Regions from separate parts of the Homo sapiens genome. Here region 2 is linked to region 1. The links come from fine-mapping of genetic effects on gene expression. A gene starts in region 1. The other region holds a variant in brackets. All regions are shown on one strand. Distances are from middle to middle.

What was found. PIP is the estimated chance that this variant, and not a neighbour inherited with it, causes the effect.
Region 2: its variant is fine-mapped to the expression of CMKLR1 in whole blood (INTERVAL, PIP above 0.99).

Annotation. Positions count from the first base shown.
Region 1 is chr12:108,337,912-108,340,816 of GRCh38, reverse strand. CMKLR1 (chemerin chemokine-like receptor 1) reads left to right here and starts at 1,506. Exons shown (of 4, transcript NM_001142343.2): 1 at 1,506-1,790. RefSeq lists a silencer at 1,223-1,342 and an enhancer at 1,450-2,073.
Region 2 is chr12:108,314,836-108,317,740 of GRCh38, reverse strand. The region is part of intron 2 of CMKLR1 (chemerin chemokine-like receptor 1); the gene reads left to right. Among named protein-coding and RNA genes, the nearest start is that of CMKLR1, 23 kb to the left of the region's middle. RefSeq lists an enhancer at 681-1,199 and silencers at 915-1,209, 1,315-1,609. The variant G/A (reference allele first, on the strand shown) is at 1,298.

The sequences.
Region 1 (2,905 bases):
TGTGACCTCAGGCAAGAGACTCAATCTCTCTGGGCTTCAAGTTATCTGTGAAATGGAAGAATGAAATTAGATGGTTTCTAAGTGTAAAGCTCACTGAATTAAAGGATTGAGGATGGTGGGGAGAGGTCGGTGGGGTTCTAAGGCTGATCAGACGATGAGGACATAGTCCTCCACCTGCCCAAGACTTTGAGGCCCAAAACACAGGTTTCTCTCCTTCTCTCCCTCCCTCCCCATCTCCCTCTCCCTTCACCTTCCCCTCCTCCCCATTACCTTCCTCCCTGCCCTCCCTTTTCTTCCTTTCTTTCTTCTCCTCCCTTCCCCTCTCTTCCCCTCCCCTGCCCTTCCCTTTTCTTTTTCTTTCTAAAAATATTATTTTAGGCAGTCGTAGGCAGTCTTGGCTTTGGAATCAGACAGACTCAGATCCAGCCATGGCTCGGTCAGCATGAGCTTGGCGCCCTGGGCAAAACGACTTCTGCTCTGTGGCCCTAGCATCCTCATGTGTAGAATGGGCAAGTGATGCCCCCCCGACGTGGGTGGTGGTTCACACGGCTTACTCCATGGAAGCACTTGGCACAGGGGCCCACATGGGCACTTCTGTTATTTCTTCAGTCTGGAGGCCAAGGGTGGGCCTCCGAGCCAGACAACATAGTTGGAATCCCAGCTCTGTCAGCTGCTGGCGGTGTGGTCTTGAGCAAGTGACTTAATCTCTCTGTACCCCAGTTTCCTTATTGGTAAGACTGGAGTAGTAATAATTCCTGTTATCTAGGGTTGCCGTGAAGAGTAAGTACGCATCGCCTAGCACGCTGCCTGGCTGTCGGTTGTTTTGATTATTCCACTAATGATGGTGACCACACAGCCGATGAACCAGGCACTTAGCGCCTGGTTAGGGCAGGGAACAGAATACAGTTCTTTCCCTACAGAGTTCCTGGTGCAAGGAGTTCTCGGTGCAAGGAGAGAGACATCTTAACAGGCAAGGACAGCACTGCATCAGTGAGGTGATGGGGTGACCCTGAGGGGCACAGCAGCCCCCGAGGGTTGGGGAAGGCTTCCCTGGGAGGTGACCTTCAACCTGAGACCTGAAGAGGCAGTAGGAGACCATCGGGCCACGAATTAGGGCAGGAATAGCATCCAGGTGGGAGGAACAGCGTTGCAAAGGCCCAGGGTGAGAGGCAGCCAATCTCTCGGTCAGTGTGGAGCTTGAGCCCCTCACCGGGAGCAGAGGCGCTTGCACTTCCCCCAGCAGCCGGGTGCTCAGATGTGCTCCCTGTTTGCGCTCAGTGGGCACGGCTCCCCGGCTGCAAGAGGCTGCCAGAGGGGCGGGTCGTCCCCAGCGGGCCCCCGCCGCCACCCACAAGCCCAGTCCCCGGCTGGTAGGGGCACCCTCCCCTCGCAGCCCCCTCTCCACGCAGCTAGCCGCCCCCGCCCTAGGTCAGCCCAGTTTCCTGCCCCTCCCTCCTGCTCTCCTCCCTCCAGCTGTTTCTCTGGCTGAGTTCTGTCCCAGTCCCATTCAGGGAAGCAGCCCCGGCGGCCAGCAGGGAGCTCAGGACAGAGCAGGCTCCCTGGGAAGCCTCCGGGTGATAGGGGTGTTCCAGCTGCGGCGCTCTGGGGGTTCAGAGGGGGATCTTGAATGAACAAATGAATGAACTGCTTTCTGGGCAAACAGCCACAGCCAGAGGAGCCTGTGATTGGCAGAAAGAAGCCAGGGTGTGCAAGTCTCCCCAACAGCCTCGAGTGGCCTGCAGTCACAGGGAACCCTCAGGAAGACCTTCCGGGCAGAGACCAGAGGGAAGGTATCATCACACACTTGCCTTGGGTGTCTTCTGAGGGGGGCCAGGGAAGGGGAATGAATACTAACAGAGAGAAAAGTTTGTTTCTTTTTATAATTTCATATTTGTTAAAAGGAAGAGTTTTGTTATTATTTTCAGATGTCAAAAGTAATGCATGTTCATTGTTTAAAGAAATAGCAAGGATACACAACTAAATATATGAATGTGGATTTCCACATCTAGTTTGGTAACCTGCTTAACCACAGATTGTGAACTTTTTTCCATATCACCTATATTCTTCCAATATACATTTTTCATGGCTGCATAGAAAGGCTATCTTAAGATTATTTGACTTTTCCATAATAGATTTGCTTCTTTTTTTTTATTAGAACAGTGCTGCAATGAATATTTAGTATGACATCTTTGTGTGTGTGTCTTATGAATACCTTTTAGAAATTGCTAGATTTAAGGTTTGCCTATTTTTAAGACTTCTGAGCTTTTGGTCACACTGCACCCTGGAAGGCCGTGGCAGCTTGACCTCTCTACGATGTTATACCAGGGCACAGTATTCTCACATACTAAACCCACCTTGTTGCTACCCATCCCTTAAACTTTCCCTGATGTGAAGTCGAGAATAATATCTAGATGCTTCAATAGGCATTTCATTTCTTTGTTAGTGTTGATTCTCTTTTATAAACTTATTTTTCACATTTCTAGTCTGACTCTCCTGTTCAAGTCTGTTCCCATTTTTTTCTCCTCTGGGGGCATGTTTATCTTTTTCCAATTGATATCTAAGGGTTCTTTGTATATAAAGGACACAAAACCTTTGCCGGCACTCTCTGTTGAAAATATTCCACTCCCTCCTCTGTCTTCAGAATAGCCCATTTTAAATGGGCAAGCCAGCTTTGGCAAAATTATAAGCATTACAACATCAGGGAACTACTACTTGATATAAGCCCAATCACTCAGACCTGTGCGGTTCAGAGATGCCAGATCACTGGTCTGAGGTCACACGCCTGAACGTCCAGGTTCTGAGTCTTTCTTTTTCTATTAGGGAAAGCCCTCAACTTCCCTTTTGCATCCCCTACCTCCTTCTCAAGACCAATCTTCTCTGTGGTTCTTGCTGTATCTCCTGCCCC
Region 2 (2,905 bases), 23 kb after region 1:
TTTAAATTCAAAAAGCCTATTAGAATTGTGGATGGATGGCTGTTAGGCTAACAGTGTTATTATGTGAATAGTATGTGTGTTGTAAATTCTAAGGCCCGTGGTTTTCATTCCTATTTTCTCCTTGATTGTGACATAAGCACATTTGGAGTTTTCAAACTAGCTGGATTTATTGCCCAGCTGACTACGGCTTTCCTTGATGTCAGAATGAGGCCACCTTTGGCCCACTTTGAACCAGCTGAGAGAGTCCTGTGGGGTTTACACAGAGCCCACCCCTCCCTCCAGTGTCCACATCATCCTCATGACCGTGATGCACTCCTGGTGGCCTCCTGAGGCCATGGGTAGTCAATACCTATGTCTCATAGTGGACCTGCCATTTCATTCCAAGCTCTTGGTGAAATGTTTGTAGGGAAAACAATGCGTTCTTGTGGGCTCTCCTTGACACTAATAACCATGGATGAAGAGAACCTCTAGAGCACATAATGACTGAAACCCATGCTCAATGAAGAGAACTGCTTGGGATGGCTTTCAGCTCATCTTGTGTCTGCCAGGACCTTCCCAAACACTGCCTCCAGCCCACCACCAAACAGGCTGTGTGTTAAATCACACCTTTTCCTGTTAAAATCAACCAATGACATTGAGGCTGGGTACAGTGGCTCATGCCTGTATTCCCAGCCCTTTGGAAGGCTGAGGTGGGTGGATCACTTGAGTCCAGGAGTTGGAGACCAGCTTGGCCAACATGGCGAAACCCCATCTCTACAAAATACAAAAAAAATTAGTGGGGTGTGGTGGTGTATGCCTGTAGTAGTCCTAGCTACTCAGGAGGCTGAAGTGGGAGGATCACTTGAGCCCAGGGAGGTTGAGGCTGCAGTGAGCTGTGATTGAGCTCCCACTGGCGGTTCCAACCGGTGCCTGTGGCTTTCCATCCCAAAGCAAAAGCCCCACCCATTTCTGCTATGGGGTTGACACCTTGCCCGTAGCTCCCTGATCTTTGGGGATTTTGGAAATCCCCAGCACTGCCTTTCCTGTGCTTTTAAATGTATGCAAATGCAATAGCAAATGGCCCTCACCCCAGGAGGACAGCTATTCATGGGGCCCCTCCCTGCCCACACCGGGTGGCTCCATGGGGTCTTGTTAAACCTTCTCAGAGGTTGGCAGAAGACTCCTTTTAGCCTTGTCCCTTTCTTCTTGCCTCTGGGTCTCTCTTCCTGGGGACTTTCTTCACCCTGCCTTCGTCTTTCTTCTGCCACTTTGCTGCTTTGCCCTGACCGCTCTGTCCTCCTTTTTCCAGTCCCTGTGC[G/A]TCTCTCCTCTTCCTGCTGGCTTTCCTCTCCCTGCCCCTCTTCCCCCTCTCTTTCTGTCTACGTTGAGGAGGTGTCATCCTCTGTTCTCTCTGCTCTTTCTTGGCTGTGCTGCTTCTTCCTCCCTCCTAAGATCACCTATCCCGCCGAGCCCCTGCCCTGCTGGGGCCTGAAGTGAAGAGGGCTCTTCCCTCAAATTCCCTAGAGCTGAGGGGCAGGGCCAGCATCTCAGGCTGGCGACCAGTGCAGCCACACAGGGCTCAGAAGGCCTGTGCTTTGTTTAACACTTGGCAGTTGCTGTCCTGAATTCTCAGTAATTTTTGAATAAGGGGCTGCATTTTCATTTTGCAGTGACTCCATGAAGTATGCACTGTTTCTGCTGAGGATTATGAACTTCCTGGGGGGAACACATCCCCTCCTCTTAGAGCTGTAAGAGCTGGGCTGAGGCGCAGGGTCCAAGTGCTGGTCCTGCGTCTGCTCCTCACTCACCCAACAGTAAGCAGCAAGATTCATCTTCATTTTACCAATGAGATAAATCAAGGCTCAGAGAGGCCATGTCACTTGCCCAGGGACCCACAGCTCATGAGCCCGGATTGAAGGAAGCTGACTCTGAAATTTGGACATTCTGTGGTCCTTTCCTGGCTGAAACCATAGGGGCTTTGGTAAGCCACCCTTTTATCAGTGAACTAAGGCTCAGTCTTTGCATCTGGAAAATAGAGGTAGTGAAAGTAGCCATCTGTGCAGAACCAGCTGGTGTTTAAATCCTGGAAAGTTCCTGGCACATGGCTACCTCCTGAAACAGCAGCCACAGCCTTTCTGAGCCTCCATTTTCTCATCTGTCAAATGGGGATCATGGTGGTACCTGCCTCACAGGACCCTTATGGGAATTTAATGACACAGGACGTGTGCTTAGCTTAGGGCCTGGCACAAGTAGGTGGGCAAGGCTAGTACACAGGAGCTTCTAGGCCAGAGGAGGGAGTAATCTATGAGTAGGGAAACTGTAGGATTTATTGTCCTGACTGGGGCACTTTGAGAATGAAAGGAACATGACAAGAAGCATAAACAGGGATTGTTGTGGGCAAGCCAGGATGGAGGGTCACTCTACCTGTGTATCAAGTATGTCTTTGTCATGATTGTCTGTTTCATAAAATATGTTCACAGATAGGTGAGTATAAGGATGCCCCAGGCCCACCCCCAGCTGGTGTGGAGAAAGACTGTGTTTGGGCTGGGTGCAGTGGCTCACACCTGTAATCCCAGCACTTTGGGAGGCCGAGGCAGGTGGATCACCTGAGACCAGCCTGACCAACATGGAGAAACCCCATCACTGCTAAAAATACAAAATCAGCCAGGTGTGGTGGCGCATGCCTGTAATCTCAGCTACTTGGGAGGCTGAAGCAGGAGAATCGATTGAACCTGGGAGGTGGATATTGCGGTGAGCTGAGATTGCGCCATTGCACTCCAGCCTGGGCAACAAGAGCAAAACTCCGTCTCAAAAAAAAAAAAAAAAAAAACAAGGCTGTGTTCGAGCCTGGGCCATAGAGAATGATGTCCCTCGGGCTGGGCATGATGGAACATGATGGTAAGCCCAGCACTTTGGGAAGCAAAGTGGG